Regions from separate parts of the Homo sapiens genome. Here region 1 is linked to region 2. The links come from fine-mapping of genetic effects on gene expression. A gene starts in region 2. The other region holds a variant in brackets. All regions are shown on one strand. Distances are between the middles of the regions.

Region 1 (2,886 bases), 69 kb before region 2:
TGCAGTGAGCTGAGATTGGGACACTGCACTCCAGCCTGGGTGACAGAGCGAGACTCTTGTCTCAAAGAAAAGGTGGGGGGGGGGGCAATAGGGAGCCATTGAAGATGCTTCAGTTGTGGAGAGGGGGCCAGGATATGACTTGTGTTTTAAGATCCATCCAGCTGTCAGGTGGATAATGGATTCATCAAAGGGCTGCAGGAGGCAGGGAAGAGGGACAGACGAGGACTTAGATGAGGATGGTGTAGGGGCGGGGGGTGGCCAGCAGTAGACAGGGGCCCACCGTCCAGTAGAACTTTCTGCAGTGGAGGAAATGCCGTGCACCTGCCCCAATCACTGCATTAGCCATGAGCCCCGGGCGGCAGTTCATCACCTGAAATGAGGCTTGTGCAACTGAGGCGTTGAATGCTTTATGTTAATTCATTTTTTATTTTTATTTTTATTTTTTTTGAGACAGAGTTTCGCTCTTGTCACCCAGGCTGGAGTGCAATGGTGTGCCTTGGCTGGTGACAGCCCCGTGAGGTAGATTTTATGATTTTCATGTCCCAGATGGGGAAGCCAAGACTCCCACCACTGTCCTGTCTAAGTCAAGGTCACACAGCCAGTGAGGGCAGAGCTGGGATTTGAACATGTGTCTCATCTGTCTCTAGTGACCTCACCCTTAAGCACTGTTCCATGGGGGAGCTGGCTGAAGACTTTTGGAGGTCCCTGGGTTGAGGGGGATCCAGTGGGGAGAGGGTGGCCATGCCCCATCACCAGCAAGGGGTTAGGAGCAGACATGGCCTGGTGGTACTCCGTGGAGAGGCCACTTGTCCTGAGAGGTGTCTGGCAGAGAAGGAACGGGGGGCAGGCTGGTGCCACCCAGCACCTGCAACAGCTGCGGACAGGGCAGGGGGATTCCTGGGCCTCCACGTTCCTTGTTCAGTGGAAGGAAGTGGAGGGGCGGGGGGCTGGTCACCAATGAGCCTGAAAAGCTCTCAGTTCTCACTGTGGGGATTTTAAAAAAATACCGGGGCAGGATGACTAAGTGCAGTGTAGAACCCTGGGCTGGGCTGGCTCCTCAACGGGGAAAAAAATAAAGGACAATATTGGTGAAATGGTCAAAATCTGACTATGGTCTGTGGATCAGATTAGAATGCAGAGTCCATGCGGTTTCTGGGGGCTTGGGGCAGGGGAGAGAACGCCCTTGTTCTCAGCAGATAGGCGCTGAGCTAAGGGGTGAAGAGGCAGATGTCTACAGTTACCGTGCCCTGACAGGGAGAAACAGAAGTGTCTGTCTCCAGATAAAGTCAGAGGGGCCAATGCAAACAGGTGGTGAATCACAGTCAGAGAGCTCTTCATACTCGTGTTGCAATTTTACTGTAAGTTTGAAACTGTCAATACAAAAAGTTACAAAGAATTGTTTATAAAGAAGAAGAAGAAAAAAGCAAACCCAACCAAGCTCAAGCCTAGATCCGTATTTGGATTCAGCTCGTCTCGGGGCGGAGCCAGGCGTCACGGCCTCCGGATTAAAGTATCCCCCC[A/G]GGGAGTGTGCTCTGTGAATCTGGGTGGGGAGGGCGCTCGGTGCTGTTCCCAGCAACCCACCACCCTCCTCCTAGTGCTTGCAAGAATAGGCAGGGAACTCAGCTGACTGCATCAGAACCTGAGAAGCTGGAGGCTGAAGCCAGACACCAGCCTCTCAGGACTTGGGGACACTATGAGCCCACTCAGCCCCACAGGTCTGAATCTTTGGGGAGGGGAGGGTTCCAGTCTGCACTCTGCCCTTGACCATCAGGGCAGGGGGATCACACTGGCTATCGGCATCATCTCTAGCAGTTTCTCCAGCCCCAGCCCTAGAATCAGGCCAAGCTCTCAGCACTGCGTGGGTTTGATCTTGAGGATTCTTTACCACCATCCAGGACTGGGGGGCTGCCGCTCATGGGTTTTGTTGTTAAGAGACAGGGTCTCGCTCTGTCACCCAGGCTGGAGTGCAGTGGCATGATCACGGCTCACTGTAGCCTTGACCTCCTGGGCTCAAGCGATCCTCCGGCCTCAGCCTCCCGAGTAGCTGCGACCACAGGCCTGTGCCAGCACTCCTGGCTTGCTGCCCATTGTATAGATGAGGAAATTGAGGCCCTAAGGCAGGGTCACTTGCCTGGCCCCTTCCCCTTCACCCGTCAGAGTCCAGACAGGGAGGGGACGTCCCCTGACCCCCGCTGCTCTGTGCTTTCAGGGCAAGAAGACTATGACCGGCTGCGGCCCCTGTCCTACCAGAACACCCACCTCGTGCTCATCTGCTATGACGTCATGAATCCCACCAGCTACGACAACGTCCTCATCAAGGTGAGGCCGGCCTCCTGGGTGGTGGCCCCACATCTGGGCCCGGCCGCACCCCTGATCCCGCCTCCTCCCTCCACAGTGGTTCCCTGAGGTCACGCATTTCTGCCGCGGGATCCCCATGGTGCTCATCGGCTGCAAGACAGACCTGAGGAAGGACAAGGAGCAGCTGCGGAAGCTCCGGGCCGCCCAGCTGGAGCCCATCACCTACATGCAGGTGGGCCGGGGCCAAGACCCTGGGGCACAGCCGTGGCTGTGAAGCCTCCCGGACCTTTGGCCTCTGCAACTGGGGTGCCTTAGTGGCCTTTCAGGGAGCTGAGGGAAGCAAGATTCTAAGAATAATTTTTAACTATTAGTATTGATGGCCTGTGGACCTGAGCACTTTACACGACTACTCCCAATCCTTAGGACTCGGAGGCAGGCGCTGTTCACATCCCCCAGTTTACAGGGGGAGAAACTGAGGCCCAGAGAGGTTAAGCAGCTTGCCCAGGGCCACACAGCTAGCGAGAAGTGGAGCCAGGATCTGGTCCCATCCACTGCAATCCAAAGTCTGTGCTATGAGCCGCCGTCCTG
Region 2 (2,901 bases):
CAAAACAAAACAAAACAAGAAGTGGCTGAGTCTTCTCCGTGGGAGTGGAGCCAAAACAGTCCCCTGAGAACCGGATGGGACCCAGGCCCTAGAAGAGAAGGCATCAACCTACACATGCTGGACAGGTCGAGATGTGTCTAGGTCCCTTCCCCTCTATTCATGCCTGAAAGGGCACCCCCATTCCTGCCCCGGCTCTCCAGCAACCCTCTGTCTATTGATCAGAATCTACAACCACGTGTCTAGAAAGACCCATCAGAGACACCCTTGGCAACCTCCTCTCCCCTCTGCACACTGTAGGAGGCCAACTGAACTGCAGACAAGAGGTACATGGACAGGGACAATGTCACTGCTCCAAATGAGAGGACTGGGGTGATAGTGTGCAATGTAATTTCAGGCAAAGCCAACCCCCCGAAAAACAATCCCGTGACTGGAGAGGGAACAGCCCTGTCTTCAAAAATAGTCACCGAGTCCCTCTTGGTCAACCCCAAGGTTTCCTGAGGCGTCTCTAGTCAACACGGTAGGTAGCTGGGGCCTCTCTGAACCTCTTAGCAGGAACAACTGCTGCCAGGACCGCTCCCCACACCCAGCAGCAATGCCATTCTCTCAGGGGACCCCCGCCTTACACCCGCCCTCACTCCACCCCGTGTAAGGCTCCGGGCCAGAAGGATAGAGCTGGGAGTTTCCCCTATCACTGGGTGAGGCTACTCAGCTGTCCGAACTGACAGATGCTCTCCACGCCAAAATCAGCCTGCAGCAGCGTCAGAGCCCCCAAAGACAGGAAATAGGGGTCCCTAATCCCCAAGCACAACCTAGAGGTTCAAGGTGAACAGCTCTTAAGTACACCTCCCAAAACAGAGCTGCAGGATAGTGCTGCCCCGCCAGAGCACGGGGTGGGAGCTGAGCTACCAAAAGCAGATGGGAGGGGGCGGGGTGAGATCTGGGGAGACCCTGCAGAGGTGGGGGCTGGGCTGTTCTCTTTGAACCACCCCCACAGATGAACACGCCTGGAACTTGCCTCAGAGGCCACAGACCAACTTTCTGCAGCGAAGGGGGTGCGTGGAGCAGAGAGCCAGTGGGAGGGCGGCGGAAGAGGGGGCTGCGACCCGGCGCCCCACGTGGACGAAGAGCTGAAGCGCCGGGTGATGGGAGGGGGCTGGTCCATGCCTCCCGTCCGCCCCCAGGGCCTCTCCGGGGCACTCCCTAGGCCCTGACTGTCCCCACCGCCCGGGCCGGGGGGCTCAGGAAGGGCAAGGCGCTGCACCGCGGGCAGCAGAGTTGCGGGACCAGGTGGCCTGGCCCTACCTGCAGTTCTTGAAATTCTCCCTCCAGCTCGTGCCATTCGCGCTCGCAACGCTCCAGCTGCCCGGACATGATGCGATGGTGCAAGGCGGCGGTGCCGGCGGCTGCTCCCGCAGCGCTGCCCGACCGGCCCCCCAGCGCCCCACGCCCGCGCGCTCGCCGACCGCCCTCGGAGGCACCAGCTGTTCCTGCGCAGCCAGAGCCACGCGCGCAACTGACGTCACGGCCCCGCCCCGGCGCCCGCCCCGCCCCACGCCTGGGAGGCGGGGCCGCGCGTGCGCATGTGCCCCGCCCCGCCCCGCGTGCGGCGTTCCGGACCGGGACATGGCAGGCTCGCAAGGTCTTTCGGGGTCTGTTGCGGCCCCCTTGGCAGTGCCTCTGCGCCTCCAGAATCTGTCTCTTCCAGGAAGAGTTGGGGGACTTGTCTGCAGGTTGCATTTGCAGAGATTATTTGACTTAGATTGTGTGTTTTGGGGGTGTCTAGAGTTTGGGGAAAGGAGATTTGGGGGAGGTGAAATGAAAGCTCACCGGCCCCTGGTCATTGCCTGACTTGAGCCCAGGCCAGCGCCCCGGAAGGCTGGCGCTGACATCGACCATCCAAAAAGGTCGGGGGCCGGGCGGCGCAGCGCAGAGAGGGCACGGTCATTTCACGTTGTCATTATTATGTGCTGCAGCTAATACATCCTAGATTCCTGCCCTCTAACGCTCTGGGTGACGTTCTTAACAGCTGTTTCTGTCGCTCAAGGGACAACCGCCTCCAAGCTGATTAAATCCAGTTCTGTCCCCTCCTCTGCCAAGTCCTGCAAGAACTGCCCCTGCCTAGCTTTCCAGTCCCTTCTATCTCACCGCCCTGGACTCGTACCCTCCAGCCATTGCTTTTTCTCTTCCTGACCTTGCATGGAACTTTCTTCCCTCTAAATCTTCATACGATGTGCCTTTTTTTCATCATTCAGGCCTCAGTTTCAAATGACACCTGTGTTACTTTACTTTTTTATCTTTCTTTTTTCTTCTATTTTTATGGGTGTTTTTTTTTTTTTCTGTCGCCTAGGCTGGAGTGCAGTGGTGTGATCTCAGCTCACTGCAACTTCCGCCTCCCGGAATCAAGTGCGTCTCATACCTCAGCCTCTGGAGTAGCCAGGTTATACCACATCCAGCTAATTTTTGTATTTTTAGTAGAGGCGGGGTTTTGCAGTGTTGGCCAGGCTGCTCTCGAACTCCTGACCTTAAGTAATCCGCCCGACTTGGCCTCCCAAAGTGCTAGGATTACAGGCATGAGCCACCGTGCCCGGCCCCCTGTGTTCGTTGCTAAAGCTGCCATAACCACAACCTGGGTAGTTTAAACAATAGAAATGTATTCTCACCAACGGGGGCAACATAAGGAGACCTTGTTTCTACAAAAAATTTACAGATTAGCTGGGTGTGGTGGCACGCGCCTGTGGTCCCAGCTACTCCGGAGGCTGAGGTCCAAGAATTCCTTGGGCCTGGGAGGTCAAGGCTGCAGTAAGCTATGATTGCACCACTGCACCCCAGCCTGGGTAACAGAGCGAGACCCAGTCTCATAAAGAAAGAAGGAGGCCGGGCGCGGTCGCTCACGCTTGTAAT

Evidence for each region. PIP is the estimated chance that this variant, and not a neighbour inherited with it, causes the effect.
Region 1: its variant is the best candidate, but not a certain one, in a credible set for the expression of TMEM120B in lung (TOPMed, PIP 0.81).

What each region holds. Positions count from the first base shown.
Region 1 is chr12:121,780,516-121,783,401 of GRCh38, reverse strand. It overlaps TMEM120B (transmembrane protein 120B), which reads right to left. Exons shown (of 12, transcript NM_001080825.2): 12 at 1,334-2,886. RHOF (ras homolog family member F, filopodia associated) reads left to right here. Exons shown (of 5, transcript NM_019034.3): 3 at 2,210-2,319; 4 at 2,396-2,530. Among named protein-coding and RNA genes, the nearest start is that of RHOF, 12 kb to the left of the region's middle. RefSeq lists enhancers at 1,320-1,389, 1,430-1,489. The variant A/G (reference allele first, on the strand shown) is at 1,521.
Region 2 is chr12:121,711,366-121,714,266 of GRCh38, reverse strand. It overlaps TMEM120B (transmembrane protein 120B), which reads right to left and starts at 1,515. Exons shown (of 12, transcript NM_001080825.2): 1 at 1,303-1,515. The coding sequence starts at 1,371. RefSeq lists silencers at 1,044-1,173, 1,354-1,403, 1,414-1,673.